4 separate regions of the Homo sapiens genome follow, and all the other regions are linked to region 1. Evidence: fine-mapped expression QTL. A gene starts in region 1. Each other region holds a variant in brackets. All regions are shown on one strand. Distances are between the middles of the regions. Region 1 holds the start of CHPT1 (choline phosphotransferase 1). Region 2 holds the start of LOC105369938 (a long non-coding RNA gene). Region 3 has its middle 12 kb from the start of ARL1. Region 4 holds the start of LOC124902997 (a long non-coding RNA gene).

The links. PIP is the estimated chance that this variant, and not a neighbour inherited with it, causes the effect.
Region 2: its variant is fine-mapped to the expression of CHPT1 in monocytes (TOPMed, PIP above 0.99). The same link has a PIP of 0.9 or more in blood mononuclear cells, non-classical monocytes and tibial nerve.
Region 3: its variant is fine-mapped to the expression of CHPT1 in lung (TOPMed, PIP above 0.99).
Region 4: its variant is fine-mapped to the expression of CHPT1 in thyroid (GTEx, PIP above 0.99).

What each region holds. Positions count from the first base shown.
Region 1 is chr12:101,693,068-101,701,169 of GRCh38, reverse strand. It overlaps CHPT1 (choline phosphotransferase 1), which reads right to left and starts at 3,530. Exons shown (of 9, transcript NM_020244.3): 1 at 3,036-3,530. The coding sequence starts at 3,308. It also overlaps a transcript of MYBPC1 not described here. RefSeq lists silencers at 2,797-2,986, 3,247-3,586 and an enhancer at 3,807-4,056.
Region 2 is chr12:101,613,075-101,621,182 of GRCh38, reverse strand. It overlaps MYBPC1 (myosin binding protein C1), which reads right to left. Exons shown (of 32, transcript NM_002465.4): 2 at 6,652-6,687; 3 at 3,940-3,981. LOC105369938 (a long non-coding RNA gene) reads left to right here and starts at 5,399. Exons shown (of 5, transcript XR_001749279.2): 1 at 5,399-5,480; 2 at 5,990-6,629. The variant G/T (reference allele first, on the strand shown) is at 4,748.
Region 3 is chr12:101,415,874-101,423,981 of GRCh38, reverse strand. No RefSeq gene overlaps it. Among named protein-coding and RNA genes, the nearest start is that of ARL1, 12 kb to the right of the region's middle. The variant C/T (reference allele first, on the strand shown) is at 3,650.
Region 4 is chr12:101,739,852-101,747,959 of GRCh38, reverse strand. It overlaps GNPTAB (N-acetylglucosamine-1-phosphate transferase subunits alpha and beta), which reads left to right. Exons shown (of 21, transcript NM_024312.5): 21 at 719-2,461. The coding sequence ends at 796. It overlaps LOC124902997 (a long non-coding RNA gene), which reads right to left and starts at 3,970. Exons shown (of 2, transcript XR_007063424.1): 1 at 3,931-3,970; 2 at 2,993-3,172. RefSeq lists enhancers at 3,883-3,992, 4,113-4,202. The variant T/C (reference allele first, on the strand shown) is at 4,582.

The DNA.
Region 1 (8,102 bases):
TTCCTTATTGGAAATGATGGCTTGAAAAGCAGTTTGCAGAAGCTAAATATAAATCACAACTTTTTTCTATTAGTTTCCCTTTATCCCCAGTCATGTTCTAGAAATTAGCATCATGCTTAAAAACGTATCAAATGTTATTATTCATGCACTCAGTATTAAAGCCTATATGAGTAGATAAGCCCAAGCATCTAAATCGAAAAACCTTATGTGTTTTTGCTGACTCTTTCTGGAAGCAATCTGTCAAGTCTGAAAAAAACACTAAGAATTCTTAAGTCTGAGAATCAGAAAACAAGTCCCAAGCCAGTTGAAAGTCACTTGACATCTCTGGGCTTCAATTTCCTCTTATGAAAACATATACTACTGTTACTTCAGGATAGATGGATAGAAGAAATACTGAGGTGGTAGGAGGGCCATTGTAGGAAGCGGAAAACTTGCTAACCTCTTTGGCTGATAACAAGACACAAATGCAACCATGGATGTGAAAGCACTTTACATATTTGTATTATGTAAAACATAGGATCTTTTTATTTTTGAAGTCATACCAACTTAGATCTGAATCCTACCTGATCCAGTCATTTGCTAGTTCTATGAACTTAAGAGAAAATAGCCAGAAACTGCTACACTCTTCACACTGTTGCTGGGCTTTCACCAAACAAGCAATGTGGATCCTGTAATGGCGTTTCCCCTCCCTGCATCAGTCACTCAGAAGCATATGAAGGTTCTAGTGACATACATTTCAGAAACTCTTGTTTTTAACTCTCATTTACCCTTCTTGGGCCATTTGATTTTGCACTTTATTTTTAAATGCCTCCAATCCCCACCCTCCACCCTTTTTTTTTTTTTTTTCACATGAGGCTGATCCTAAAAACTAATTAATCATAAACGTACCTCTTCCATCAGGCCTCCCTTTACTTCCCTAGGCAGAAGCTCTTGACTTTTTTGGTAAGCCCTGCTCTTTCTAAGTGTTCAACAAATGCTTCTTAAATTAATAATAACATTGAAGAGTCCACAACTTAACTGGCCAATATCAGAAACATTCAAATGCTGTTAGCTAAATCTGGACCCAATCAAAACTAAATTTTATTATGTGTTTTCAGGATGTTGTCTGATAACAGTAATATTTTTAATGTGTTGAGTGATATTTTTAATTTGTTAGGCACATCGCAATCTTTTACATTTATCTGCATATATATCATTTGGTCCTCACTGCATCCTTGTCAAGTTGTTTTGGCAGGCATTATTTTCTATTGTATCTGTGGGAACACAGACCCAGCAGGTCTGTGGTGGAAGAGCCAGTTAGAAACCAAGACCTCCACTTCCAACCCAGCTATCCTTTCATTCTAACACACTCCCTCTGGTAAATTCTAGAAACAGGCAGCAAAACAGCCAAAAACTAAAGCAGCTTACTTTTTCATATGTAATATGTAAATGAATAGCAATGGCAAATGACAATGGGAATGTCTATTAAGAAATATATAATAAGCCTGGCGCAGTGGCTCACTCCTGTAAATACCAGCACTTTGGGAGGCCGAGGCAGGCGGATCACTTGAGGTCAGGAGTTCGAGACCAGCCTGGCCAATATGGTGAAACCCCGTCTCTACTAAAAATACAAAAATTAGCCGGGCGTGGTGGCAGGCACGTGTAGTCCCAGCTATTCAGGAGGCTGAGGCAAGGGAATCGCTTGAACCCAGGAGGCAGAGGTTGCAGTGAGCCGAGATCACCACATTGCCCTCCAGCCTGGGTGACAGAGCGAGACTCTGTCTCAAAAAAAAAAAAAAGAAAAGAAATACATAATAAGCATACCAATCCATTGACAAGATATTTTAAAATGTAGGCTCGATCAAATTTTTGTTTTTAAAGGATGCATGAGCCTGGCCAACATGGTGAAACCTTGTATCTACTAAAAACACAAAAGTGAGTCGGCCGTGGTGGCACGCGCCTGTAATCCCAGCTACTTGGAAGGCTGAGGCAGAAGAATCGCTTGAACCCTGAAGGCGGAGGTTGCAGTGAGCCGAGATCGAGCCACGGCACGGCACTCCAGCCTGGGTGACAGAGTAAACCCCTGTCTCAAAAACAACAACAAAATGGATGCATGCATGGAGGGCATGAAATATTTCCACTGTATTTCTGTTAATCCAACCTCAACCTCCATGAGTCCTCCACAAGGCCTACACTCAAATGATTATAAAGGGACTTCACTATTTGGAGCAGAGAATAGAAAGTAATGTCACAGAATGTGCAATGTAATATTTATCCCACGTAGTATAAACTATAGATGGGAGTGAACTCCACTCTGCCCCCTATCCCTCCACACTCAGCCCAAAGGGTGCTTCTGATGAACAGCTATCCAAAGCCTATATTTACTCCTTATTTTGTACAAAGGTCAAATGTAATTATTGCTAATAAAATGTTGGGGTTTTTTTAATCCCTAGGTTGTGATGACAAAAAAATTATTGCCTTGATAACATTCCAGTTTGTTTTTCTTGAAAAAGTCGATGAAGCAAAGAGGAAGTTACCTCTTAACTCATCTTTGATCAGTGCTACCGGTCATTTCAAGATCACTAGCTCAACCTTCCAGAAACGAACGGTTACGAAAGTATTCAAAGGGCGTCTCGGGCTTGGCACAAGTCCCTGTGCCAGGCAGGACGGAGATGGGGGTGTTCAGTCCCCAGTGTGCAAAGCACCCGACCGCGGGTCCGTCTCACAGGTTGGCGCCGCATGGGATAGCGGCTGGGCAGGCGCCCTCCGGCCCGTCCGCGGCCGTGGGGAGGATCTGCGCGGACATAGGACCTGGGGCAGTGACCTTAACAGCCCCTCCGCTGCCCAGGGGAGGCTTGGGATGGTCACGGGATTGGGATAGTGGCGTGACAGTCTCCAGGCGGCCCAGGGCGGACACCGCCCGGGGCAGTGGCCAGTCCGCCCCTCCGGGGCCCGGGAGAGGCTCAGCCGCGCGTGGGTCCGCCCTTCCCCCGGCGCCTCCAGCGACCCGCCCGCAGCGCATCTGGGGCCCGGCTCGGGCGATCGGCCAGCCCTACCTCTTCGGTGGCCGTGGGACAGTAGGAGATGAGCACGAGCGTGGTGACCACGTTGACGGCGAGCCCCAGCAGGGTGATGGAGTTGGGGGCCATCCAGAGCGGGATCCACTGGAGCAGCCAGGTCCAGTAGAGCTGCAGCGGCGGCTCGAGCAGCGAGACGCCCGCCGCGCTGTAGCGGTGCTCCTCCAGTCGCCGCAGCTGCGCCGCGCTCAGCGGCTCGCTCAGCGCCCTCAGCCAGCGCGGCGCGGACCCGGCCCCGGCGCCTGCCGCCATGGCCGCCTGAGGGCCCCGCCGCCGCCACCGAGCGCAGCCCGCGCCTGGCGCTGGGGGCAGGGAGAGGTGGAGGGAGAGGCTGGCGGCCGGGTCCTGCGACTGCCGGGCTGGACTCACCGGTCGGGCCCGCACGGCGGAGGTCGAGGTCAGGCCGGCCTGCCCGGCTGCCGGGGCCCCAGCCCCAGAAGCTGTGGGGCCGCGGCTGCGGCTCGCGGGTGGGGCGGGGCCTCGGGGAGGGGTCCGGCTGGGGGCGGGGCGGAGGGGGTCCTGCTAGGGGCGGGGAGGCGGGTGCCGCGCTCGCGGGTCACCCTCGGCGCCCGCCAACGGCAACTTGTTATCGGCGATCAAGGTCCTTGACTCCCCAGGGGCCGGCTGCACTGCGCCTGAGGTCTGATGTCTTAACCCACGGCGTCGGATTACGCCCTGAGGTCGTCTCCTCGCGGGCTGCACCACGACCGAGCCGGTTCCTCTCCTAGGGGTCGGAACACGACTCCGGTCGCCCAGTGTTAGCCACTGCAGGACCACGCTGCCCGCAGAGCCTGGGGGTTTTCGTGTGAGAACACAGTTTTGCAGGGCTCGGGTCACGGGGGTGACGGCCCCATCTGTCCTGCTTGGTAAAACACACAAGCACAATTCTCCCTTTCTGTACGGAGGAAGGCGGCCCTGCCATGTATTCGCTCTAGAGACCCATCACTGCGGATTCAGAGACCAAGGTTTTGAAACTGAAAATCAGGGCTTAGAAACACTAACAAGGAGACCGAATGGCTGAAACCCCGATACCTATTTTCTTCAGCGCATTTGATACCAACAAGGGTGAATATTTTTACACATACTCTTCCCTGGAATAAAGGGCAGGAGTGTCCTCCCCCTGCAAGGGGGAACAGGCTGGCTTGCCACACGCATTGGTAGGTCACCGGCCCCTTATCTCACAGTGCACTCACTTGGACAGGGGACATCTGTCATAAACACGTTCTGTTGCACAACCTGAGACAGGCCTGTCACTTGCTTTGCTCTTCACTTCATGGCTCTGATCTGCACGCACTTTCTAAGGCCTAGGACAAGCCAGAAATTGCTTCCAAGACACTTGTGTGGCGCAACCTCTATCGGCAAGTGCAGTTTGCCTCACGGGCTTCGTCAAACACTTGGCACAGGGGTCCACGAACTGCTGCCTGTGTGCCAGACCCAGCCCACCACCTGTTTTCCTACAGCCCTCCAGCTAAGTATGGTTTTGACATTTTTAAATGATTGGAAAAAATCAAAAGAATACAATTTTGTGTTGTGAAATTATATGAAATTCAAAGTTCAGTGCCACGAATAAAGCCATGTTTATTCCTTACCTATTGTTTGGCTGCCTTCATGCTACAAGGGCAGCAGAATTCAGTTGTGACAGACCGTATGGCTGGCAAAGCCTGGACTATGTCCTACTAGGCCCTTTAAGGAAAAAACTGGCAACCACTGCCTTAGAGCAATGAGGGTCTCTACAGACCAAGCGTATATGTCTTAGGAATATGGATCTCCTCATCTTTAGTGTGAAAAACGATGCTGACAAATGCAGGAAAGGAAATGGAATGATGGAGATCCACTTTTAACAATGCTGGTTTATGTGCAGTGAACTTGACAGTAACTACTTTTTAATTTACCGATGCCATGAACAGTCCAAGGAAAAAATCCTTTTCTAGATTAGCCGATTTCACTGTATTAAAGATAATTTTTAATGTACATCAAAAGACGTCATCAAGAGAATGAAAAGACAAGCCATAAACTGGGAAAAGGTATTTCCCTCAAAACCCACAATGAGTAGAACCCAGATTATGTAAAGAACTCCTAAAAATCAATCAGAATAAAAAATAATCAACTGGGCTATGTTCTGTTTCTATAGGAGAAGCCCTGGAACATGGTAATGTTCCAGGGTGCACTTATGAACATGAGTGAATTGCACAAGCATATGTTGACTGAAAAAAAAAAAGAAGCAGGTGTATTAGTCAGCTTGGATTGTCATAACAAAATACCACAGACTGAATAGCTTAGACAACAGGAATTTATTTCTCTCTCACATAAAAGAAGTACAGAATTGGCACTCCAAGACTGGTACGATGTTTCCATGGTCATCAGGAACTCAGGCTTTTCTGTCTCTCTGCTCCAATATCCTCTCTGACTTGTATCTATAAGGCCATCTCATGATTCAGAATGGCTGGTGAAGCTCCAGTCATCTTATTTGTGTTTCAAGCAGCAGGAAGGAGTAAGAGGACAGGAAAAACAAAAAGTAGATATCACTGGCTGGTGAGCAAACTGGGGTGCCTCTCCAAAACTCCCAAACAACACTTCTCCATACAGTAGTCTCCCTTTGTCCCTGGTTTTACTTTTCTGCAGTTTTAGATACCCACAGTCAACCACAGTCCAAAAATATTAAATAGAAAATTCCAGAAATAAAGTGTGAGTTTTAAATTGCATGCCATTCTGAGTAGCGTGATGAAATCTCACCCAGTCCCACTCTTCTCCACTCAGGACTTACATCATCTCTTTGTCCAGTGTATCCCTGCTATATAAGCCACCTGTCCTTTATTCATTTATTAGCCATCTTGGTTATTAGAAACAACATAGTACATATAGGGTTCGGCATTATCCATAGTTTCAGGCAACAGTTGTGGGTCTTGGAATATGTCTCTGGAGATAAGGGGACTGTTGTATTATGTATCTCATTGGCCAGAACTTAATTATGTGGCGTACCCAAGTGGAAGTGTTTGCTAGGAAGAGTAGATGGTTACAACCACTTGAAAAACAACCTGGCATGATCTGGTGAAGTTGAAGATGTGTGTACTCTGACACCACAATTCTGATCCAGAAACAGATCCTAAAGAAATTCTTGCACATGTATCCTAGGAGATAAGTATAAGAATACTCATGACACCTTTGTCTGTACAATAACTAAAAGCTGTAAATAACTTATATGTCCACTAATATTGAATGGGTAAATAAACTGGTATTTTCAAGTAATTTAATATTATATAGCAAGTTTAATATGGCAGTAAAAAATTAATGAACTATAGGTACACTTATGAACATGAATGAATTGCACAAGCATATGTTGAGTGAAAAAAAAAAGCAGATGTATTAGTCAGCTTGGATTGTCATAATAAAATACCGTAGACTGAATAGTTTAAACAACAGGAATTTATTTCTCACAGTTCTGGAGGCTGGGAAGTCCAAAGTCAAAGTGTGTTTCTTAGTGAGAACTCTCTTCCTGGCTTGCAGATGGCCACCTTCTATGTCTTCACATGACAGACAGAGAGAGAAAGAGAGGAAGCTCTCTGGTGTCTCCTTATAAAGTCCTTATAAAGGCACTAATCCCATCATGAAGGCCCCACCCTCATGATATCCAATATCCTAAAGGCTCCATCTCCAAATACCATCACATTGTGGAGGATTACGGCTTCAACATATGAATTGGGGGTGGAGCAGGGGCAGGATACCATTCTGTCCATAACAGCAGGCCATAGGCAAAATACACACAGTATTATTTTACTTATATAAACTTCAAAAACATGTGACTGCACTTTGCAGCTCCCATGTGGCAAAGCTATGAAGAAAAGGAAAAGAATTATAAGTACAATCCTGATAGTGGTTACTCCTGATAGAAAGGAAGGTAAATGCAATTATAGAGGGGCACATGGCAAGTTTCAAAGGTATTGGTAATTTTTTAGACTACAGCTGGGCAAACTACAGCAACCTAAATGGAATAGAGGTTTATTTTTCCCACATTGATGTCTGGGTAGGCATGGTAGGGCTACATGGCAGCTCGATGGTGTCAGAGACACAGACTTCTTCCATTTTATTAGTCTGCCGCCTTTCAGATGTTGCCCTTGTCCTTGTGATCAAAAATGGCTGGCCATGACTCCCAACCAATAGGAAGGGGAAAAAGAGAAGGGGCTGCTATGCTCCTTTCTTCTGAAGGCCATGATCAAAGGTTGCACACATCACTTCTGCTCTCATCCCATTGGCCAGAGCCTGGCCACATGGCTGCTATGCCTAACTGTAAAAGAGCCTGCAAATGCAATCTTTAGCCAGACAGCCACCTGCCCAGCTAAAATTTCTTTTACTTGTTTATTTATTTATTTATTTATTTAGAGACAGATTCTTGCTCTGTCACCCAGGCTGGAGTGCAGTGGCGCAATCTGAACTCACTGCAACCTCTTCCCAGGTTCAAGTGATTCACCTGCCTCAGCATCCTGAGTAGCTGAGACTATAGGCATGTGCCACCACACCCAGCTAATTTTTGTATTTTTAGTAGAGATGGGGTTTCGCCATGTTGGCCAGGCTGGTCTCAAATGCCTGACCCCAAATGATCCTCCCGCTTTGACCTCCTAAAATGCTGGGACTACAGGTGTGAGCCACCACAATCGGCCAAAACATTTCTATTATTATTGAAAAGTGAGAGAGTGGGTATTGTGGGGGGCCATCAAGCTGTCTCAATCACAGTTTTTTAACTGAGTAGTAGTAACATGTTCATTTTACTATTATTTATGCAATCTATGTAACTATATATCTACATAGATATAGATGGCATATTTGTATATTTTGCAAATATGAAATGTCATAATTTAAAAATAGTGAAAGTAGGCTGGGCGCGGTGGCTCACGCCTGTAATCCCAGCACCTTGGGAGGCCAAGGCGGGTGGATCACGAGGTCAGGAGATCGAGACCATCCTGGCTAACACGGTGAAGCCCTGTCTCTACTAAAAATACAAAAAATTAGCCGCGCGTGGTGGTGGGCACCTGTAGTCCCAGCTACTCGGGA
Region 2 (8,108 bases), 80 kb after region 1:
GGCTGATTGACACCTAAAGGTAAATCGTACAAAAATATTTTAGCATGCTAGTAAAAAGCACCAGGGTAATGTTATTGCAGATGTAAAAGAACCTAAATTTTTTTAAAAATCATTTTTTTAAATTTAAAACAAAATCACATAATTCAGGTTGGAACTTCTGCTGACTCACTTCCTCATCTGCCAGTCACATTCATGAAAAAGAAAGACTTCATCTCAGGTTATGTGAGATATTTAATACACACAGGGTTCATTCACGATAGTTTATGTGGTGAATGCCTGGGAAAAGAAAATAAGGTTTTATTTCCCTTTTCACGATTACCAAAAGCAGTAATAAAAAAAGGAAGTAACTTTACCAATTGAAAAGATACAGACTCTAAGCTAATAAGATGTAAAAATAAAATATCAGCACTTAGGCATGGAAATGAGTACAGGTCTTCAAAGTGGCCTCTGATTCTAATGCTGCTGTCACTTTTTGGACCAGCCACAGAACCATTTTCGGAACTTTCCACAGGGCCAGCTGTTGAGGCACAGCAGAAACCTACTCCAATTACCCTATGTTCAGACATAGGATGTTGGATCTTAGTTGACAAAAAAAAAGTATGATCCCACTTGATCACCCACGTTATTCCCTACACATGGCCCTCTGTGACTCTTGTCTGCTTTCAAAACTGAAATCCACCTTCCTCTGTTGATGGTTGTTCTTCCCCATAAAGTGTAACTTGGCTCCAGGAGGGCAGGACCCAGTGCCCAGATCTGTGCCTGGCATGTAGCCAACACTCAGCAAATCTTGCTGAATAAATACGTGCTAGAATAAAAGGCGAATCTTTGGCCCCACTGAGCATACAGAAAAGAATCTATATTTAGTGTTCCATCAATTTGCTACCTATAATTATTATGAAAGAATTCTAAGCCAGGACAGCGTTATTTGTATAAAGGCATTGCCTCCTGGTATGATTCCTCTAAAGGAGATTTGCACATCTAATTTCTGCTATTGCTGTTGGGCTAAACACATTTCTTTATTGTCATCTCTCTTGTTTCAATTCCAGAAGACTTTGCCCAGGTCCCAGGACAAAGTGGTCAGTATTAAGGAACAGGATAGCTGGATGGATAGCCAGATGCAAGCAAGCAAGCAAGCAAACAATCATAAAACCCCGTGCTGGGAAATTGGCTGCTTTCCAGACAGAGACTTTTAGCAAATATGAAAAAGTTGGCAAATCTAATCACAAATACTACTTCTAAGATTAAATCTTCTAGAATCTACTCTCTGTGGCTTCAAAAAGCATTTTCAGAACATTTCTGAGCTGTTGCAGAATGATTCAATCAATCTGGGAATGATGTTAAGGCTGGATTGCGATGAATAATATTCTTAATAGTGACAGATTTGGAGCAATTAATTGAATATATGTCAACCAATTAAATAGAAGACCAGTTAAAGTGCTGAAAATGTACCAAAATCCAGGCAAGACCATTTTCAGTAGCTTTAGGCAAGTTGGTCTTACAGTGGAAATCATCCTTCTGTTCTGCAGCAGTGTCTCATTCTAACCCTCAGTGACTAAGAACATACATAGGATGTTCATCCTCCTACCCAGCACACATGTTGAATGGAAATAAAAATCTATCCAGATTACCATTGAATGGTCAGCAGCTAAGCCAGCATGGAAATTCAACTGCTCATTCATTTTGCAAGTATTCATTAGATGATTGCTATGTGCAGCTCTCTGCCAGATGCTGGAGGGAATAAGATGAGGGGGCCAATGTCAAAAAGCTTACAACCTGTTAGGAAAAGGAGTCAACCATTAATGTGCGATTATGTGGAGACAAGAGTGATTGAATGATGGAGGCAACAGGTCCAAGAGAAATCAGGAGAAAGAAGGGGAGATAAAAGTAAGCCAGGATGGTCAGGAGAAAGCTGTTCAAAGAAGTGAAACCTGAGTTGGATGGTTAAAAAAAAAAAATAGACTGACAGTTGGAGGAGGGAGGGAGAGCAGGAGAGTTCTAGCTCATGCTGGAGAAAAGGTAGGTTGCACCCATCAATCCTGTTTATGCTCGTGCAGGGCTCCTTTCTCAACTGGGGATATCCAAGTAGCAGTAATTATTGTGTCTACTTTTTGCATAGGTATTTTCTCTGTCCTTGATGAAGAGGACTGTATATTTATTATAAACTTCCATTCACTTACCTTCTTTATTTAGGGATGTCACTTTCTATCCCAAATTGATTTGCTTCCTAGGTATGTAAGGCAAATACATATATATATACATGTATTTGCCATTATATAATATATATACAGACACACACACACACACACACACACACACACACACACACACGGCAGTTTTTGTACCTGGGCATGCAACTGCATGTGGTCATGGTTTTGCTTATCTTCTGCAAACGTCAGAAAAATGCTACTAATTTCAAAATGCCCTAGTCATCTAGCCTTGCTCTTTCATCACGCTGTGTTCTCCATAAATAAAAGAGTTTTTGTTGGTTGGTTGACTTTAAGGAAAGACATTTTCTCATTTAAGCATACAAGTATAATATGGTGACTTTTCAAATTAAGGGTCAGGCACAGGCTTTGTTTAAACTTTGACAGCTTGCCCTCTGGGATTACATCATCTGCTCTGTTGGTTGAGCCTTGCAGCCTGGCCCAAACACCTTTCCAAATTTGGAAACAGAGGTGTATGCCCATTGGCCTTGTAGAGAATAATATTACAATAATTTCAGCCAGGATGCCCAAACCTCCTTGAAACCATCCCATGGAAGGAGTTCTAGGAGTTTGCACTGTCTGCATTCCATAAGCAAATAACCTTCAAACTGCGCCCACGTGGCCAGGATTAGTATTCATGTTACTCTCCATGGGAGCCACTGAAGGTCAAGGACAAAGTGAGTATACTAACGTTATGCGTTCATTATGAGAGCATAAGTTCAAGTTAGCTGAAGGAAAGTAATCCAATCTACTGAAAGAAAGAAAAAAGTATTTTACTAATGTATAGGACACAAGAATATCATAGAAATTAGATAATGAAATATGACACATCAAGAACAAAGAGATACTTAACATGGTTTTGAGCAGTGTCCAGGAAAAAGAGAAACTTCTTGTTGCAGTCAGGAAATAGTTATTCCAAAATTTAAACTTTTTTATTCATTATGCAAATAAAAGGTTCACTTTTAAAATGACAATACAAACATATACAGCAAAGCTGTCTAATCCACCTTCATGAAACTTCCCTCTATGAAAGACTAATGCTCCTTAGCTTAAGACAGATGGTCAGTAATGATAATCATTTCTTCCATGGTGAGACAAAGGAATTAGCATTTCATGGAGTAACAGAAGTATATGATTAAGATTATTTTCTAAAATGAGACTATCTCCATATAAAGTAAAAATAGGATAATATTACAGGAATAGTTTCCAGTTCAAGAAGGGGCAACATGTCTTCTTAATGTTATATTGTGTATCTGTAGAAATCATTATATAAATCTACATGAATACATAGTCAGTGTTACAAAGTGAGATGCTAGCCTTCAAAATTATTAGTGAACCCTGGAACAGTTCACACAATAACATGAAAACATTTAATTTAAAAAAAAACCGGGTAATTCAGATAATTTTCCCAATTGATATAATCCTAAGAAGACCAAACACCTCTCTTTCTTAGCATGCATGTCGAAACTTGGAAACTACCAATTAATTTGCTGGCATCTCAACAAGTGCTTGTGATATTTTTATCATTGTTGTTTTTCTTTTAGAAATACATGTAATGGAAACTTAGCAATGCACCATTTGTCATTATACTGATTGGGACTTGCAGATAAGATGCAAAGGCAGAACGAAAGATAATGCAGAGAAATTCTATGGAGCCACCATGACAATCATTACTGACTTCTTTCTGCTTCTAATTTTGTTGACTTCAGCCTCACTCTCCCTCCCTCCAACTCACCTTTTGCTGGTGTAGTTCCGGCCTCCTTCTCTTTACTTGGTTCTGTGTAGAAAGTACAAGCATATTTTTTAAAGTGCCTTAAAGCATTTTATTGTGTGATGAGCAACGGGGTGGAGAGGGGGAGGGAAGAAATAAATGACAGCAGAACAGGTCATAAATGATACTGAATACTCGTGCTGTACATGAATTATGAATTTAGAAATTATAACTTAGAGCCACACTAAACTTTTAGTGAAAAGCAATTAATCTGATCATTTTTGGAAAAGTACACATAAGAACACTCAATACAGATTTTGTTAAAATGCACTCAACTATACTTGGATCATGTTATATAACATGCTGGAGTAGAATTAGGCAAAACAAATGTGAGCCACTTTATTTTAGACCTCAGCAAGGGACTGACTTTTTAAAGAAAAGTCAGTTTGCCCCATGTAATGATTCCAAGAGTTTGGACTTCTAGATTTTCTAGTAAAGTACAAAATATGTAATTGTGTGCAGTGTATGTTGCTTCAAAGAAAATGTTTCAGTGTCCATGTGAATCTTCTGGATTGGGTTTAGTGGCAATAAATGCAAAACAAGAGCAGTAACATCAGATTCTACCAGTTGAGACCATCTAGTTTGCATTTCTCTGTGTTTGGGATCATATTAGTTTAGACCTGCAAATGGTATCTGACTTATGGAATCAGTAAGAAAAGAATTGTTTCAAGAATGCATTCTCTTTTTTCGGACTGATGAATGGAGATTCAAATCTCAGTTAACTAAGAAGGACAATTTTAGCAGAATTTGGGAGGAGACATTTGAGCAACAG[G/T]AAGTCAATATTGTGCAATGAATATGAAATATGACATACAAAGGAAACGATAGTGGCTCAGTGGCAGTAACTGATCTGAAAAACAGAAGGGAAAGGTTTGTTTATAATGGCCAGTAGGTTCTCAGTGTACTCAATGTTGGTCAAAGTACATTTGTTATGGGCAAGGAGAAAACATACCAAGGAACAGGAAGATCCTAAGAAGAATGTCACACATCTACACTAGTTTCAAGATCAAGATCTAAAGAAAATAAATCTGAGCTTTCCCGTTTGAACTCATATGGCACTGAGCCAGTTTTCGTTCATTTCGACACATAGTAATACTTCTCTATACTGTTTAGGGTTTGAGTGTGTGAATCTAGTATTCTTAGCTGGACAAAGGGCCTCTTGTGAGCAGCTAGATTTCTCAAACTGCCCTCCTGAAAAACAATCTCTGCTTGCGCCCAAGAGTTTGAGGCTGCGGTGAGCTGTGATGGTGCCACTGCGCTCCAGCTTGGATAACAGAGCAAGACCCTGTCTCAAGAAAGAGAAAGAAAAGAAAAAAGAAAACAAAGAAAAAAGAAAAACGATCTCCAGGGAGGAAGAGGAAGAGCTTTATAATTGCCTCATAAGTTTTTGTGTGAAAAGATGATTAGAAACTGAGACCTTCTCCAAACTCCTGCTTTCACCTAAGCTGGACCAGGTCTACAGTCACCTGCTGGCTTCATAACACATTGCCAGTTTAAGCAACTCACAAGTAATCACATACTGCTTGGTGTGGGGGGGCGGGGGGGGGGCGGGGGGTTCTTATAATATTGCCTAATGTTTTAATGTTTTGGCTGCATTTTATTTAATTGTTTCCCAGGCTGTATTCTATTTTCTACTTGGCTGCAAACAAACTGAATACAGGGAGATGTTTTCTATGTAGAGTTCCCCACTACATCTGGTACAATATGCTTGCACCTAGCTATCAATACGTACATGATAGGTATGTCTGAATCCCTCTGAAGGGTTAGGTCAGAGTTGTGCACAGGGTAAATACCTAGTGAATAATTATTGAGTGGGATGCCAGTTTCTCATCCTTTTCAAGGAGGAAGAGGGATGAGGAAGGCCACTTTGGAGTCTTTATGGGAAAATGCACATGATTTTGGTTGCTTCCATCTTGGGGCTATTTGGCTGATAAATGACTCTGAAGAGCCATGTTGGGAGTTTAAGCCACATTGAGCTTTCAATCTTTTAATCTTTTAATTTTCTTTTCTTCTTTAGGTGTATGTGGACATAAAAACAAGCTTCATATATTGTGTGTCATAGGGGACTGCCCTACCTGCCAAGGGTCTCACTGGATCTCTGTACTCATTTCCTGTTGCCAGCTGGTGGACAATATGGTGCTAAGAACTCAAGAAGTTGGTCCTCACGTTGAACCTCAGAGGTCACCAAACCTTTCTGGATAGCTGCTAGGGAGTTTCTGGAGGTGCTCAATAGTGACATATGTCAAGTTGAGAAGGGACAGCTGATCTTCCAGGGTAGAGATGGATCCACTCCCCACTCTCATAAAGAAGATGTGGGTTTGTTTGACCTTCACTATATAGGAAAAAGCCTCACAAATTCTTCAGCCCCTTGGATGGAGGCTCAGCCTCCACACTGTAAAATGCGGACATAATAACTTTTACATAATTTGAAAGGTTTCATAAGAATTGTCCCCCTAATATATATGAAGTGCCATCCAAATTAGATTAACACAAGAGGATTATATAAACACAGTGTATTATTTTTATTATTCTCAACTTATCACAATGGTCACCATCCAACTTCTCAGTAGGAGTTAGGTTAAAGCTCACAGCTCACAGCACCCGTGGAGGCCAAATCATGCTGGGATGGACCCTCTGTATTTGCAGCCCAAACGTGTGTGAGTGAGTGTTTTTACTCACCTTCCGGGGGTGGGGCTGGGGCTGGCACTTCATTTTCTAGAAATGGAAAGAGTCATGGAAATGTCAGGCTCATTTATCACAGAGAAGAACTGCTTTCTACAGCCCCAGGCAGCTTCTGCTGCAGGCAGCCATCTCACCTGTGTGTACTCACAAGAGGGATGGAGGAGGGAAACACATTCTCTCTTCTCTCTCTCTCTCTCTCTCTCACACACACACACACACCCTACTGCATCAAGAGGCCCAAGACATACATGCTGCCATTTATGTGTGGTATATAGATTTCCAGGAGGTGGCATGGTGTAGTGATGGAAAGATAAAGGTAGAATGGGGATCCGAGTGTCCTTGCCACTTAGTTATCCCCTCCAGAGGCAGGCCGGGCATTTACTTGTGCTGAGCCTGTTTTCCTGCCTCTAGAGAAATGGCCGCATCTTATATGGGCAGGACTGCTGTTAGGATGAAGTGAAACACAATGGGTAGCAAGCATATGGTGAGCATATCCCGTAGAGTCTAAGGTAAGGTCGGTGCAGAAATGAGACCCCTTTTTCCCAGAAAGCAAGAGCACCACTGCATCGCCAACATTGTTCTGCCTGCATGAGAGACACTTTCTGAAAGCAGATGACATGAAAGTCCTCTGGCTTTGCAGTGCTTTGTTGTTGTTGTTTTACAAGGACGGTGCAATTCACTGGGAAACAGAATTAAGCCCTCTCAGAGTTGTTTCTGGAAGCATACGTGCTTGGAGTAGATTCCCACCTACACCTATCCAAAATTTTCCAGGCTCTGGTTTTGAGGTTTGGTTTTGGTTTACCTGGCTTTCGATGTCTGGTTATTACAGAGCAGTCTGGCTATGAAGTCTGACAAAGAAACTTCTGTTAAAGAACATACTATTTCCAAGTAGGTAAAGGCATCCACATGAACAAAGAGCATAGCATTTCCCGTGCCAAATCCCTGTGGATGCCCAGAATTGGGAATTAGTGACATGTGAGTATCACTCACTCATGAACCACCTGCTTCATCTCCAGGACAAGAAGAGGCAGTTAATGAAGGTGATCGCTTCTAAAATTATCTTCTACTTGATTACTAAATAAAATATAAAGATAACAAAGTTTTTGTATTATAGGCACATTGTGGAATCCTGGGAGCCTTTGTCAGCATATGGGATTTTCCACATTTTTTTCCACAAGTGACTCTTGTTAAGCAGGGCGGACGATGCCCCATAACAAGCAGTTTGGCTGAACAGTCACCACTATGTGTAGGCCAAATGCCCCGTTCTAGTCTAGGAAGGCTGGAATGAGCATAGAAAAATGAATGGATTGCACCGTAACAGAAATCAAGAAAACAGTAATGCAGGCCTGCCAGGATGCAATCATGTCTTTTTCCATCACTGATTTTGGGGCTAGTATAAACTCCAATTTATTGTTTTTTAAAAACTTTTATTCAGATGGCCATAAATAAGTTTA
Region 3 (8,108 bases), 280 kb after region 1:
AAGTTGCTGGGATTACTAGGAGCACGCCACCATGCCCAGCTAATTTTTGTATTTTTAGTAGAGACGGGGTTTCACCATATTGGCCAGGCTGGTCTCGAACTTCTGACCTCGTGATCCACCCACCTCAGCCTCCCAAAGTGCTGGGATTACAGGCATGAGCCATTGTGCCTGGCTGATTTTTAAATTTTTTATACAGATGAGGTTTCATCATGTTGCCCATGCTGGTCTCAAATTCTTGGGCTCAAGTGATCCACCCTCTTTAGCCTTACAAAATGCTGGGATTACAGACATGAGCCACTGCTCCCAGGCATCAAAGTTTCTTTATCAAAGGATGAGTTTGGCCCCCTTTTGGCTCTCTCTTGCCCTCTCTTTGCCCTTCCACCATGGGATAACACAGAATAAGGCCCTTGCCAGATGTCAGCTTCTCAGTCTTGGACTTTCCAGCCTCCCAAATCATGAGCCAATACATTTCTGTTTATTATATATAATAAATAAATAAAAACAAAAATACAAATTTAGGTCACAGGCCAGGCGCAGGAGTTCGAGACCAGCCTGGCCAACATGGTGAAACCCCGTCTCTAGTAAAAAAACAAAAATTAGCCAGGCATGGTAACGCGTGCCTATAATCCCAGCTATTCAGGAGGCTGAGGCAGGAAAATCACTTGAATCTGGGAGGTGGAGGTTGCAGTGAGCCGAGATCGTGCCATTGCACTCCAGCCTGGGCAATAGAGTGAGACTCCATCTCAAAAAAAAAAAAAAAAAATTTAGGTCAGAGACCGATCCTTTGAGATTCTGATAGAGGTTCCAGACTGTCTTTCTGAGAAAAGAATGCATGGCCCATGTGTGGTGGCTCACACCTGTAATTCCAGCACTTTGGGTGGCCGAGGCAGGCGGATCATGAGGTCAGGAGTTTGAGACCAGCCTGACGAACATGGTGAAACCCCATCTCTACTAAAAATACAAAAATTAGCCAGGCGTGGTAGCAGGCGTGGTAGCACGCGCCTGTAATCCCAGCTACTTGGGAGACTGAGGCAGGAGAATTGCTTGAACCTGGGAGGCGGAGGTTGCAGTGAGCCGAGATCACGCCATTGCACTCTAGCCCGGGTGACAGAGCGAGAGTCCATCTCAAAAAAAAAAAAAAAAATGCATGTACACACAGAGATAAAATTCTGAAAATAACTTTAATAGGTGTGCAGGCTCCCAGAAGTCTACTGTGAATTAACAGAATGTCAGGTTAAGAACCATTTGTCTCAACAAAATAAGTAAGTTTAACCAAAGAACTGTAATACCTGTTACTGAAAACTCCAAAACATTGAAAAAAATTTATATATGTATTTGTATCTCACTCTGTCGTCCAGGCTGGAGTGTGATGGCACAATCTCAGCTCACTGCAACCTCTGCCTCCTGGGTTCAAGTAATTCTCTTGCCTCAGCCTCCCGAGTAGCTGAGACTACAGACACACACCACCACGCCGGCTAATTTTAGTATTTTTAGTAGAGACGGGGTTTCGCCATGTTGGCCAGGCTGAACTTGAAATCCTGGCCTCAGGTGATCCACCCACCTCGGCCTCCCAAAGTGTTGGGATTACAGGCATGAGCCACCACTCCTGGCCTATATAATATTGTTTTTTATGGTTTTTTTTTTTTTTTTTTTTCAGACAAGGTCTCTCTCTGTTTCCCATGCTGGAGTGCAGTGGTGTGATCACAGCTCACTGCAACCTTGACTTTCTGAACTCAATCGATCCTCTCACCTCAGCCTTCTGAGTAGCTAGGATTACAGGTGTGTGCCACCATGCCCAGCTAATTTTTGTAATTTTTTTTTTTTTTTTTTTGAGAGGGAGTCTCACTCTGTCGCCCAGGCTGGAGTGCCATGGCATGATCTCGGCTCACTACAACCACCTTCTCCCAAGTTCAAGCGATTATCCCACCTCAGCCTCTCAAGTATCTGGGACTACAGGCGCATGCAACCACGCCCGGCTAATTTTTGTATTTTTAGTAGAGATGGGGTTTCACTATGTTGGCCAGGCTGGTCTCGAACTCCTGACTTCGTGATCCGCCTGCCTTGGCCTCCCAAAATGCTGGGATTATAGGCGTGAGCCACCGCGCCCAGCCTAATTTTTTATTTTTTTTAAATAGTTATGAGGTTTTACCATGTTGCCCAGGCTGGTCTCAAACTCCTGGGTTTGGCCTACAAAACCCAGGCATTGGCCTCCCAAAATGCTGGGATTACCGGCACAAACTGCTGTGCCTGGCCCATAAATGTTGTTAAGATGACAGCACTTCCTGTTATGGTTTGAACGTAGGTATCCCTCCAAAATTCATATGTTGGAATTCAACACGGTACCCTCCTCTTGACCTTATCTATGGGGGATATGTTTCAAGACTCCCAGTGGATGCCTGAAACTGCAGATAGTATCAAACTGTATATGACAATGCTCTGGAGCGCCCAGGACTAGATCTCCTCACTGCTGATTACTAAGAGTACTGCATCAGAGTACAAAGCATGGGAGTCAGAAAATGAGTAATATGGAAGGGAGGGTTGGAAAAAGCAAAGGCTTCTTTTTGGCATATCAGAATGGCCAGGATCACTACTCTTGCATTTTGGGGTGATTTTCTTTTCTTTTTTTTTTCTTTTGTGACGGAGTTTCGCTCTTATCGTACAGGCTGGAGTACAATGGTGCAATCTTAGCTCACTACAACCACTGCCTCCTGGGTTCAGGTGATTCTCCTGCCTCTGCCTCCCTAGTAGCTGGGATTACAGGCATGCGCCACCATACGCGGCTTATTTATTTATTTATTTATTTATTTTTGTGAGATAGAGTGTTGCTCTGTTGCTCAGGCTGGAATGCGGGGCACGATCTCGGCTCACTGGAACCTCCGCCTCCGGGGTTCAAGTGATTCTCCTGACTCAGCCTCCTGAGTAAACTGAGATTACAGGCACACACCACCATGCCCAGCTAATTTTTGTATTTTTAGTAGAGTCGGGGTTTCATCAGGTTGACCAGGCTGGTCTTGAACTCCTGACCTCATGATCTGCCACCTCAGCCTCCCAAAGTGCTGGGATTACAGGCATGAGCCACCGCGTCCCGCTAATTTTGTATTTTTAGTAGAGACGGGGTTTCACCACATTGGTCAGGCTGTTCTCAAACTCCTGACCTCAGGTGATCCACCTGAAGTGTTGGGATTACAGGCATGAGCCACCGCGCCCAGCCTGGGGTGATTATTAAGCAAAACAAGAGTTGCTTGAACACAAGCGCTGTAATACTGTGACAGTTGATTTGATAACTGAGATGGCTACTAAGTGACTAGCAGGTGGGTAGCATATACCGCAGGGATATGCTGAACAAAGGGATAAAATTAACATCCAGGACAGCACAGAGCAGGATGGTGTGAGATTTTAACATGCTACGCAGAATAGCAAGAAATTTAAAACTTATGAATTATTTCTGGAATTTTCAATTTAATATTTTTGGACCGAGGTGGACCATGGGTAAGTGAAACCTCGAAAAGTTCACCACAGATAAGGGGAAACTACTCTATTTATGTGACAGTGTTAAGAGGTAGGACTTCTATTGAAGGGATTAATTCACAAGGGCTCTGACCTCATGTATGGATTAGTACTATTTTTAAAAAAGTTGAAGGGGGCCGAG[C/T]GTGGTGGCTCATGCCTGTAATCCCAGCACTTTGGGAGGCCGAGGCAGGTGGATCACGAGGTCAGGAGGTCGAGACCATCCTGGCCAACATGGTGAAACCCCGTCCCTACTAAAAATACAAAAATTAGCCAGGTGTGGTGGCACGTGCTGTAGTCCCAGCTACTTGGGAGGCTGAGGCAGGAGAATCGCTTGAACCTGGGAGGCGGAGGTTGCAGTGAGCCGAGATCTTGCCATTGCACTCCAGCCTGCTGACAGAGTGAGACTCCATCTCAAAAAAAAAGGTAGAAAGGAGTGCTCCATGCCTTTTGTCCTTCAACCATATGAGAAAGGACCAAGAGGCGCCATCTTGGAAGCAGATAGCAATCCTTACCAAGCACCAAATCTGCTAGTGTGTTGATCTTGGACTTCCCAGCTCTAGAACAACGATAAATAAATTTCTATTGTTTATAAATTACTCAGTCTAAGGTAGTTTGTTATAGCAGCAGGAAAAAGCTAAGACATTTCCCAAATTAATCTACAGATTCAATGTAATCCCTATAAAAATTCCAACTGCCTTTTTTTTTTTTTGCAGAAATGAATAAACTGATTCTAAAATTCACATGGAAATGGAAGGGACCCAGAATAGCCAAGACAAAGTAGGAAATGAACAAAGTTGGAGGACTCACACTTCCTAATTTTAAAACCTACTACAAAGCTACTATAATCAACAGCTACTTTGGAAGGCTAAGGTGGGAGGATCACTCAAGGCCAGGAGTTTAAGACCAGTCTGGGCGACATAGTGAGGCTCCATCTCTGCAAAAAATTAAAAAATTAGCCAGGGATAGTGTTGCACACTCATAGTCCTTGCTATTCAGGAGACTGAGGCAGGGGGATTGCTTGAGTCCAGGAGTTTGAGGCTATAGTGAGCTATGATTGCACCATCATACTCCAATCTGGGCAACAGAGTAATGCTCTGTCTCAAAATTAAAAAAAAAAAAATCAACACGGTGTGTGTGGTACTGGCACAAAGATAAACATATACATCAATGGACTAGAATTGATAATTCAGAGGTTGGGCACAGTAGCTCATGCCTGTAATCCCAGCACTTTGGGAGGCCAAGGTGGGTGGATCACTTGAGGCCAGGAGTTTGAGATCAGCCTGGCCAACATGGTGAAAACCCGTTTCTACTAAAAATACAAAAATTAGCCAGGCATGGTTGTGTGCACCTGTAATGCCACCTACTTGGGAGGCTGAGGCATGAGAATCACTTGAACCCAGGAGGTGAAAGTTGCAGTGAGCCAAGATTGTGTCCCTGTACTCCAGCCTGGGCAACAGAGGGAGACTCTGTCTCAGAAAAAAAAAAAAAAAGAAAATTCAGAAATAAACTTGTAATGTAGTAATGTGAAATGAATACTGACTTTTTTTTTGTAAAATTAGTTAAAATTATTTAAAAAAAGAAAAAAGATGGGCCAAGTGTGGTGGCTCATCTCTGCAATGCCAGCAGCACTTTGGGAGGCCAAGGCAGGCAGATCACTTGAGCTCAGAAGTTTAAGACCAGCCTTGGCAACATGGTGAAACCCTGTCTCTACTAAAAATTCAAAAATTATCTGGGTGTGGTGGTGCACACCTGCAGTTCCAGCTACTCAGAAGCCTAGGTGGGAGGATCACTTGAGCCCGGGTGGCAGAGGTTGTAGTGAGCTGAGATTATGCCACTGCACTTCAGCCTAAGTAACAGAGCAAGACCCCATCTCAAAAGAAAAAAAAAAAAAGGGAAAAAAGAAAAAAAGAGGCTGGGTGCAGTGGCTCACACCTGTAATCCCAGCACTTTGGGAGTCCAAGGTGGGCAGATCACCTGAGGTCAGGAGCTCAAGACCAGCTTGGCCAACATGGTGAAACCCTGTCTCTACTAAACATACAAAAAATCAGCCAGGCGTGGTGGCAGGTGCCTGTAATCTCAGCTACTTGGGAGGAGGAGGCAGGAGAATCACTTGAACCTGGGAGGTGGAGGTTGTGGTGAGTCGAGTTTGCACCACTGCATTCCAGCTTGGGCAACAGAGTGAGACTCCATCTCAAAAAAAAAAAAAAAATTAGCCTGGCGTGGTGGCACACACATGTAGTCCCAGCTACTTGGGAGGCTGAGGCAGGAGAATCGATTGAGCCCAGGAGGTGGAAGTTGCAGTGAGTGGAGACTGCGCCACTACACTTCAGCCTGGGCGACAGAGAGAGACTCTGTCTCAAAAAAAAAAGAAAAGAAAAAAGAAATTTATATTACCTATGATCAATTGATTTTTGACAAGGTGTGAAGACCATTTAATGGAGAAAGTCTACTTTCTTCAACAAAAGGTGCCAGGACAACTGGATATTCACATGGCAGGGTTTGTTTTGTTTTGTTTTGTTTTTTTGAGACAGTCTTTCTCTGTCACACAGGCAGGAGTGCAGTGGTGCAATCTTGGCTTACTGAAACCTCCACCTCCCAAGTTCAAGTGATTCTCCTGCTTCAGCCTCCCGAGTAGATGGGATTACAAGCATGCAACACCACACCTGGCTAATTTTTGTATTTTTAGTAGAGACAGGTTTCACCATGTTGGCCAGGCTGGTTTCAAACTCCTGGCCTCAAGCGATCTGCCTGCCTTGCCCTCCCAAAGTACTGGGATTACAGGCATGAGCCACCCAAGCCTGGCCAAGCAAATGAATTTGGATCCATATTTCATACGATTTGCAAAAATCAACCCAAAATAGAAAAAGATCAAAATATAAGAGCTAAAACAATAAAACTCCTAGAAGAAAATACAACTGTAAATCTTTGTGAGCTTGGGTTAGGCAATGGTTTCTCAGATATGATACCAAAAGCACAAGCTACAAAAGAAAAAAGTAGATTTTTTTTTTTTTGAGAGTCTTGCTCTGTTGCCCAGGCTGGAGTGCAGTGGCACAATCTTGGCTCGCTGCAACCTCCACCTCCTGGGCTCAAGGGATTCTCCTGCCTCAGCTTCCTGGGTAACTGGGATTACAGGTGTGTACCACCACACCTGGCTAATTTTTGTATTTTTAGTAGAGACGGGGTTTCGCAATGTTGGCCAGGCTGGTCTTGAACTCCTGACCTCAGGTGGTTCACCTATCTCGGCCTTTCAAAGTGCTAGGATTGCAGGCATGGGCCACCACACCCAGCTGAAAAAAAAAATAGATAACTTGTATGTCTTAGTCCATTTTGTGTTGTTATAAAAGAATATCGTAGACTGAGTAATTTATAAAGAAGAAAAAATTACTTCTCACAATTCTGGAGGCTGGAAAGTCCAACATCAAGATGCCTGCATCCTGTGAGGGCCTTCTTGCTCTGTCATCCCATGGCAGAAGGTGGAAGGGCAAGAGAGCATTCTTGAGAGAAAAGGCAGAACTCGCTTTCATAACAAACTTACTCTAGTGATAACAAACCCACTCCTTTGATAACAACATGAATTCATTCATGAGGATAAAGCCCTCATGATCTAATCACCTCATAAATGTCCCGCTTCTCAGTAGTGTGGCATTGGGGATCATGTTTCCAACACATGAACTTTGGAGGACACATTCAAACCAGAGCACTGGACTTCAACAAAATTAAAAACTTTTGGCCAGGCGCGGTGGCTCGAGCCTGTAATCCCAGCATTTTGGGAGGCCGAGACAGGTGGATCATGAGGTCAGGAGATCGAGACCATCCTGGCTAACACGGTGAAACCCTGTCTCTACTAAAAATATAAAAAAATTAGCTGGGCGTGGTGGCAGGCGCCTGTAGTCCCAGCTACTCAGGAGGCTGAGGCAGGAGAATGGCATGAACCCAGGAGGCGGAGCTTGCAGTGAGCAGAGATTGTGCCACTGCACTCCAGCCTGGGCGACAGAGCAAGACTGCATCTCAAACAAACAAACAAAAATTAAAAACGTTTGTGTGTCAAAGGGCATGCTCAACAAAGTGAAAAAACTCACAGAATGGGAGAAAATATTTGTAAATCATAAATCTGATAAGGATCTAGTACACAGAATATATAAAGAACTTTTACAACTCAACAATAGAAAAATAATCCAACTAAAAGATGGTCAAAAGACGTGAATAGACATTTCTCCAAAGAAGATATATGTATGTCCAATAAACATGTGAAAAGATTTTCAAAATCATTAGTTTTTATCAGCAAAATTCAAATCAAAACCACGATGCAAACCACCTGCTAGGATGGCTATAATTTAAAAAGTGGAAAATAAGTGATGGTGAGAATGTGGAAAAAACAGAACCCAGATGCATTGCTGGTGTGAATGTAAAATGGCATAGCCACCATGGGAAATAGTTTGGTAGTTCTTCAAAAAGTTAAACATACATATGACCCACCAATTCCACTCCTAGGTATATACCCAAGAGAACTGAAAACATATGTACCCACAAAAACTTGTGCAGAGATGTTAATAGCATCTTTATTCAAATAGCCAAAAAGTGAAAACAACCCAATGTCCACT
Region 4 (8,108 bases), 47 kb before region 1:
CTTTCCTCTATCTATACCAGTAGAGAATAGGGAACTAGAGAGGCAGTCTTTCCTCTATCTATACCAGTCTATCTATACCAGTAGAGAATAGGGAACTAGAGAGGCAGGAAGAGGGAAGGGAAGGGCAGGTTAAATCCCAACACTCTGCTCTCTACTGGAGTCAAACTCCTTCCTCCTGCCATACCTGCCACCTTCACAAACAAAGCAGCCAATGCTGCCTCTTCCTCCCCTCCCAAATTCCAGCTCATCATTCAAACCGTGGTGTCTTATGTTTGGGCAAAGCCCTGCCTCCTCCTACAGATGAAGGAATAAGCCATCATATCAACCCAGAGACAGTGTCTTATGGCTAAATAGAGCCAGTTTCCTTCAATAGAAAGACTTGACAAATGGACATCTTGAAAATAAATATGCTTTGGTAATAGCTGTGTAAAAATCTGTAGTTGTAGGTCTTAGAAAAATGAAGCATGGGCCGAAATAATTTTAATCCTCTTGGGTCTCTTTGTGGGCACATATCTAGGCATACTGTCCCTACAAAGCTAAACAAAACTAATATTTGTTTTTGTTTTGGAAGAGGAATGATGGAGATTTGTTTGTTGTCTTTTTAATGTATAAGATTGTGGAAATGATTAAGGTCATATGGCTCTTAGAAAGTTTGATGCACTTATATTCTTTCATCAACGTGAGAATTAAAATGTATTTTCTGTCTTTCATCATTTAGTTAATTGCACTTAAGCGGAAGATATTTCCCAGAAGGAGGATACACAAAGAAGCTAGTCCCAATCGAATCAGAGTATAGAAGATCTTCATTTGAAAACCATCTACCTCAGCATTTACTGAGCATTTTAAAACTCAGCTTCACAGAGATGTCTTTGTGATGTGATGCTTAGCAGTTTGGCCCGAAGAAGGAAAATATCCAGTACCATGCTGTTTTGTGGCATGAATATAGCCCACTGACCAGGAATTATTTAACCAACCCACTGAAAACTTGTGTGTTGAGCAGCTCTGAACTGATTTTACTTTTAAAGAATTTGCTCATGGACCTGTCATCCTTTTTATAAAAAGGCTCACTGACAAGAGACAGCTGTTAATTTCCCACAGCAATCATTGCAGACTAACTTTATTAGGAGAAGCCTATGCCAGCTGGGAGTGATTGCTAAGAGGCTCCAGTCTTTGCATTCCAAAGCCTTTTGCTAAAGTTTTGCACTTTTTTTTTTTCATTTCCCATTTTTAAGTAGTTACTAAGTTAACTAGTTATTCTTGCTTCTGAGTATAACGAATTGGGATGTCTAAACCTATTTTTATAGATGTTATTTAAATAATGCAGCAATATCACCTCTTATTGACAATACCTAAATTATGAGTTTTATTAATATTTAAGACTGTAAATGGTCTTAAACCACTAACTACTGAAGAGCTCAATGATTGACATCTGAAATGCTTTGTAATTATTGACTTCAGCCCCTAAGAATGCTATGATTTCACGTGCAGGTCTAATTTCAAAGGGCTAGAGTTAGTACTACTTACCAGATGTAATTATGTTTTGGAAATGTACATATTCAAACAGAAGTGCCTCATTTTAGAAATGAGTAGTGCTGATGGCACTGGCACATTACAGTGGTGTCTTGTTTAATACTCATTGGTATATTCCAGTAGCTATCTCTCTCAGTTGGTTTTTGATAGAACAGAGGCCAGCAAACTTTCTTTGTAAAAGGCTGGTTAGTAAATTATTGCAGGCCACCTGTGTCTTTGTCATACATTCTTCTTGCTGTTGTTTAGTTTGTTTTTTTTCAAACAACCCTCTAAAAATGTAAAAACCATGTTTAGCTTGCAGCTGTACAAAAACTGCCCACCAGCCAGATGTGACCCTCAGGCCATCATTTGCCAATCACTGAGAATTAGTTTTTGTTGTTGTTGTTGTTGTTGTTTTTGAGACAGAGTCTCTCTCTGTTGCCCAGGCTGGAGTGCAGTGGCGCAATCTCAGCTCACTGCAACCTCCGCCTCCCGGGTTCAAGCAGTTCTGTCTCAGCCTTCTGAGTAGCTGGGACTACAGGTGCATGCCACCACACCCTGCTAATTTTTGTATTTTTAGTAGAGACGGGGGTTCCACCATATTGGTCAGGCTTATCTTGAACTCCTGACCTCAGGTGATCCACCTGCCTCTGCCTCCCAAAGTGCTGAGATTACAGGCATAAGCCAGTGCACCCAGCCGAGAATTAGTATTTTTATGTATGGTTAAACCTTGGCGTCTAGCCATATTTTATGTCATAATACAATGGATTTGTGAAGAGCAGATTCCATGAGTAACTCTGACAGGTATTTTAGATCATGATCTCAACAATATTCTTCCAAAATGGCATACATCTTTTGTACAAAGAACTTGAAATGTAAATACTGTGTTTGTGCTGTAAGAGTTGTGTATTTCAAAAACTGAAATCTCATAAAAAGTTAAATTTTTGTCTGACACTTTGATTTTTAAATCTTTGAGGATTGAGTTTACTGTTACTCAGATTCAGCAGTCACTTGAGTGCCTTTACTGTGTATCAGGTTCTGTGCTGAACATTACTAAAATTAAGTGGAAAGTAAGGAAAGATTAGTATTATACAGAAGAATGTTGCTTTATGGGGGGAAAATAGTTTCTAAATGGAATTTATCATATGGTAAAATTTAGGATATCTGGGTATCATTATAAAAGCTGAGATTTATTCTAGAAAAGTTAGAGAAATGAACATTTGTCTGTAATGACGATTTCTGTGGTTAGATGAATATAGTCCATACCTAATTAGGAGCTTGATAATGGGATGGATAATACAATCATAGGCTATTCATAGACTCATTCTAATGATTCTGTGATTCAGTAGAATCATTAGAACAGAGGAACCTCAGAAGTTGATGAGCAGTCAGATGGTCAGAACCATTTGTTCAAATCCTATAGAAAAGGTCACTCTGTGTTTTAGTTTTTTTGTGCTGCTGTAACAAAATACCTCAGACTGGGTAATTTACAAAGAACAGAAATTCATTTTCTTACAGTTCTGGAGGCCGAGAGTCCAAGATCAAGGGGCTAGCAGGTTTAGTTGTCTGGTGAGGGCTGCTTTCTGCTTTTAAGATGGCTTCTTGAATGCCGTGTCCTCACAGAGCAGAAGGGCAAGAAGGCACAAACTGCCTCTGTCAAGCCCTTTAATAAAGACATCTAATTGAATTGATGAGGGCTCTGTTCCCATGACTTATCACCCTCTGAAAGCCCCACCTCATAATACTTTTAAATTGCCAGTTAAGTTTCAACATGAATTTTGGACAGATAAAAATTCTGTGATACAAAAGAAGGAAGGCTGCTTCTCCTGCCTGATTCTCAAGGTGTTCCCTCCAGCTCCCAGGCCCTTCGGGCAGAGTTTCAAAACAACTGTCTGGACGAACCCTTGCTTTTTATCGGCAAGGACACCAAGGCCACGGGGATGACATGACTTGCTCAAGGTCTTACAACCAGTTAGAGGAAGAGGTAGGGTGGGAACCCGGGTTGTCCCTCTTTCCTGTCCCCACCAGCCCATGCTGCCTCCCCAGGACTGTGGCACATGTGGGTGAAGAGCACACTCTGCAGTCAGACTACGGGAGTTCAAGTCCTGGATCCTGGACACTGCTTGCCGTGATTTAGCTTTCTCTGCCAAAATGTGGGAGGCAATACTGGTAGCTACCACAGAGGCTTATGGTGATAATTAGAGGAAATGACATGTGCAACACACGCAGCCCAGTGCCTGGCAAATAGTCCTGCCTGCTAAATGTCAGTGGTGATGATGGTAATGATGAAAATTCGTGTTAAAGACTGTTGTCCAGGCCAGAGGTGAGGCTCCTAGTCTAGTCATTAGGGTGAGATGATTATATTGCTCTTAGCTAAAAAAGTGACACATTTTCTAATTACAAAGGATTTTTTTAACCTACCTTATGTCTTCAAAAGTGTTTTTTGTTTGTTTGTTTCTTTTGAGACGATCTCACTCTGTTGCCCCAGGCTGGAGAGCAGTGGCGTGATCTCAGCTGACTGCAGCGTCAACCTCACAGGCTCAAGCAGTCCTCTCACCTCAGCTTCCTGAGCAGCTGTGACCACAGATGTGCTCCACCACACCTGACTAATTTTGTTTATATTTTTGTAGAGACAGGGTCTTACTGTTATCCAGGCTGTCTTGAACTCCTGGGCTCAAGCAATACTCCTGCTTCGACCTTCCACGGTGCTGGGATTACAGGTGTGAGCCACTGTGCCTGGCAAAAGTGTTCATTTTGAAAATTATTTCTACATATACCAAGAAGTATACAAATAATAACAGATTAAGCATTTAAACTAAAGGGTAATCACTACTTACGTCAAAACATCTAAGGAAGAAACAGCACCAGTCCCACACAAATTCTTCCAGAGAGCAGAAAAAAGCAAAATACAGTATCATCCAACTCATCCCTTGAAACACAACCCCAACAGTAAAACTTGGCTCAGATACCACAAGACAAAAACCATGGGCAGTCTACTGCAAAAGAATCCCAAACAAAATACTAACAGGCCAAATTCAGTTATTCCCAGAAGAACAACACTTCACAGTCAAG[T/C]GGGGCCTACTCCAGGAATGCAAATTTGGCCCAACACTTGAAAATCAATTCACCACATCAGCAGGACCAAAAGAAACTGGATGATAATCTCAACAGATCTTTCTTTAAAAAAGATCATAAAAAATTTTAAAAAGACCAATAGATGAATTCTCATCTGCTCAACAGTTATCAAGACTTTGCCACATTTATTCATGCTCCGTTTTTCTTTGTGATATGTTTTAAGGGAAATCCCAGGCTTCCTTGTGACAGGAGTACAGAGCCATGGTGGTTAAAGGGATGTGAAGGGGGCTTCTTGTCAGTCTAATTGCTTTTCTCCTCTCACTTGCCCTAATAACAGCTATATCTTACTGTACACAATCTATGTGCTAAATGCTTTATGTTCATAATCTCATTTCATCCACACCATATCCCCACTTATCAGTGAGGGAACTGGGGCCTAACTAGGTTTAGTGCCTCACCTCAGGTCTATTAAGTTAAGAGACAGCTTTTCCACCCAAGTCTCTACAAAATTAATTTTTAGCCACTAAATAAACTTGGATTGCAAGGGACAAATCTAACTCAAGCTTCTTAAGGAAAAACAAAGAGGGGTACAGGAGGAAGATACTCTTCCTGAACCATTGCTCAGCACTGTCTATCTGTGCTTCTCTATGCACATCAGCTTTTCTCTCCTTGGTGAGGACATGGCAGTTCCTGGCTCACATACTCCAGAGAGGCAGGAAGTTTCCTCTCTGGCTTCAATATAGAAAATCCTGGTGGGAGATGAGTTACTGTGATTGGCTCATTCTGGGCTCTGTGCCCACCTCTGTAGCCAGAGGGATGGAGATTTTTACCCAAGGAAGGAGGGGAGGGATGCTGGGCTTACAAAACATCACCTTCCAGCTTCACAGATTAGAGATGGTGCAGGTGGAAGACCAAGTTCCTGGATTAGGTACTCAAGGTGAAGGCAAGCTGCCATACTTGAAAGCAATTGGAAAAATCAAATCTGTTGATAGAGAGTACAGTGAACCTTGTAAATTTTTCATTACTGAAAGGATTTAAAAAAATGTAAAGCATTAGTACAGTACCTGCCACATAATAAATGCGCCATAAATGGTGGCTTTTATGATTCACAATTGGTGCCAGTTGGAATCCTGATTTTCCTCTCTTGCCAGCCTCATTCTTGGCCTCATTGTGTCAGCCACGTTGCATTTTCCCAAATGTGCTGTGCACTTTTATGCCTCCATACCCTTAAAGATGCTGTTCTTATTACCTACTGAGTAGTTTATCTATGGAGACATTTCTATGAGTTTTTAAAAATTATTATAAATAGAGATGGGGTCTCACCATTTTGTCCAGACTGGTCTCAAACTCCTGGGCTCAAACGATCCTCCTACCTCAGCCTCCAAAAGTGCCGAGATTACAGGCATGAGCCACTGCTCCTGGCCTCTAAGATTTCGACTATATTACCTGAGTTCTTTGAGACTGAGTAAGGAAACAAGGGATGTAATATTTAGGTTTTCAAACAATAATGACAAGATTCTACACCATTGGTTACTAAAGAAAATGGGAAAATGTTTTGTTAGGAATCCAGATGATTGGAATAAATGGGTGATGATCTATATGGGGAAGTATTAACAATGTGGTCATCTAAGAATGAATGCTGAGACAGGTCATGAAATATTGGTGTGTGGGTTAAAAATCATCTATAAATTACCTGCTGAAGCACATGGTGAAATCTCCAGACATGCTCTTTACAGCAGTGAAATGCCAAGGTGCTGGAGATAATCTTGGGAAATTTTTATTACGAATAAAGAAGAAAAATGACAGATGCTCTTCTGTAAGGGTCACTGTAGGAAAAACAACTGAATATGATGATGTAGTGAATGGAACTACTTAATAAGAACAGCATCTATAAGGGTATGGAGGCATAAGAGTGCACAGCACATTTGGGAAAACGCAATGTGGCTGATGCAGTATGAGGCCAAGAATGAGGCTGGCAAGAGAGGAAAAGCAGGATTCCAATTGGGACCAATTGTCAATCATAAAAGCCACCATTTATGGCACATTTATTATGTGGCAGGTACTGTACTAACGCTTTACAAACTTTTTTGAATCCTTTCAGTAATGAAAAATTTACAAGGTTCACTGTATCCTGTATCAACAGGTTTGATGTAGTGAATGGAATTACAGGAACAAGTCTGGGAGTCGTCATCCGTCATTCCTTACCCAATACACTGGTGTATTTAAACGAGCCAGTGGAATGCTGAGCATCATAAGGAAGAGGATTCAAAGCAAAACAGTAAACAGGAGGGTTCCTTTGAATCTCTTACTTGAACTAGGCAGTTGAAAAGTGATTGGCGTCAATAAGATCCTGAAGCCTTTGCCAAATATTAAAGAAGTAAAATATAGGCCAGGCAAGTTGGCTCATGCCTGTAATCCCAGCACTTTGGAAGGCCGAGGTGAGAGGATCATTTGAGCCTAGGAGTTTGAGAACAGCCTGGGCAACATAGTGAGACCCCATCTCGGCAAACTTTTTTTTTTTTTTTTTCTTAATTAGCCAGGCATGGTGGCACGTGCATGAGTCCCAGCTACGCAGGAGGCAGAGACAGGGGGATCATTTGGGCCCAGGAAATCAAGGCTGCAGTGAGCCGTGATCATGCCATGCCACTGCACTTCAGCCTTGGCAAGAGAGCAAAACCCTGTCTCAAAAAAAAAAAAAAAAAAAAAGTAAAATGTATGATTTCAAATAGAAAAAGGATTGCAGAGCTGTGAGCAAACTAAGGCAGGTACAAAGGTTGAAATATATTTTAAAATTATTTGGGGGAAAATACATATAAGCACAGAAAAAAGGATGAAAGGCAATAATACCCCCAATTTTAAACTGTATATTATTTCTGGGTAGTGGGATTATAGGTGAGTTTCATTTCCTTCATAAATTGTATCTTCAAAAATTGTTTTGCAATTGATAGGTGATTTCCAGTTACACCAAATAATTGTTTTACAATTATACTCCCACCCACTGAATGGGTTCCCTTTGTTACATAGATTCATCATCACTCCGTGTAGTCATATTTTGTAGTTTTGCCATTCTAGTGGACTGTCAGAACACTACATAGACTATGGGACAATTTTTTGTAATGCCAAACGCGAACGAAACTAAGCCGTGTTGTTTAACGACACATTTTCATGTGGTAATAAAACTTAGAAAATAAGGAAGGGTGAATGATTTACATAAATTTAGGATAATTTTCTTATATCCCTGAATGGGGAAGGGTGGGGTCCTGGTGAGGATCGGATGGAAAGGCCTGCCTGAGGAGATTCAGTGAATGTTGGTAAAGCCCTACTTCATAAATTAGGTGGTATGTTCATCATGTTTCATAATTTACATATTATTCCGCAATTTTCTTTTTTTTTTTCTTGACATGGAGTCTCACTCTGTTGCCCAGGCTGGAGTACAATGGCATGGTCTTGCTCACTGCAACCTCTGCCTCCCGGGTTCAAGCGATTCTCCTGCCTCAGCTTCCCAAGTAGCTGGGATTACAGGCGCC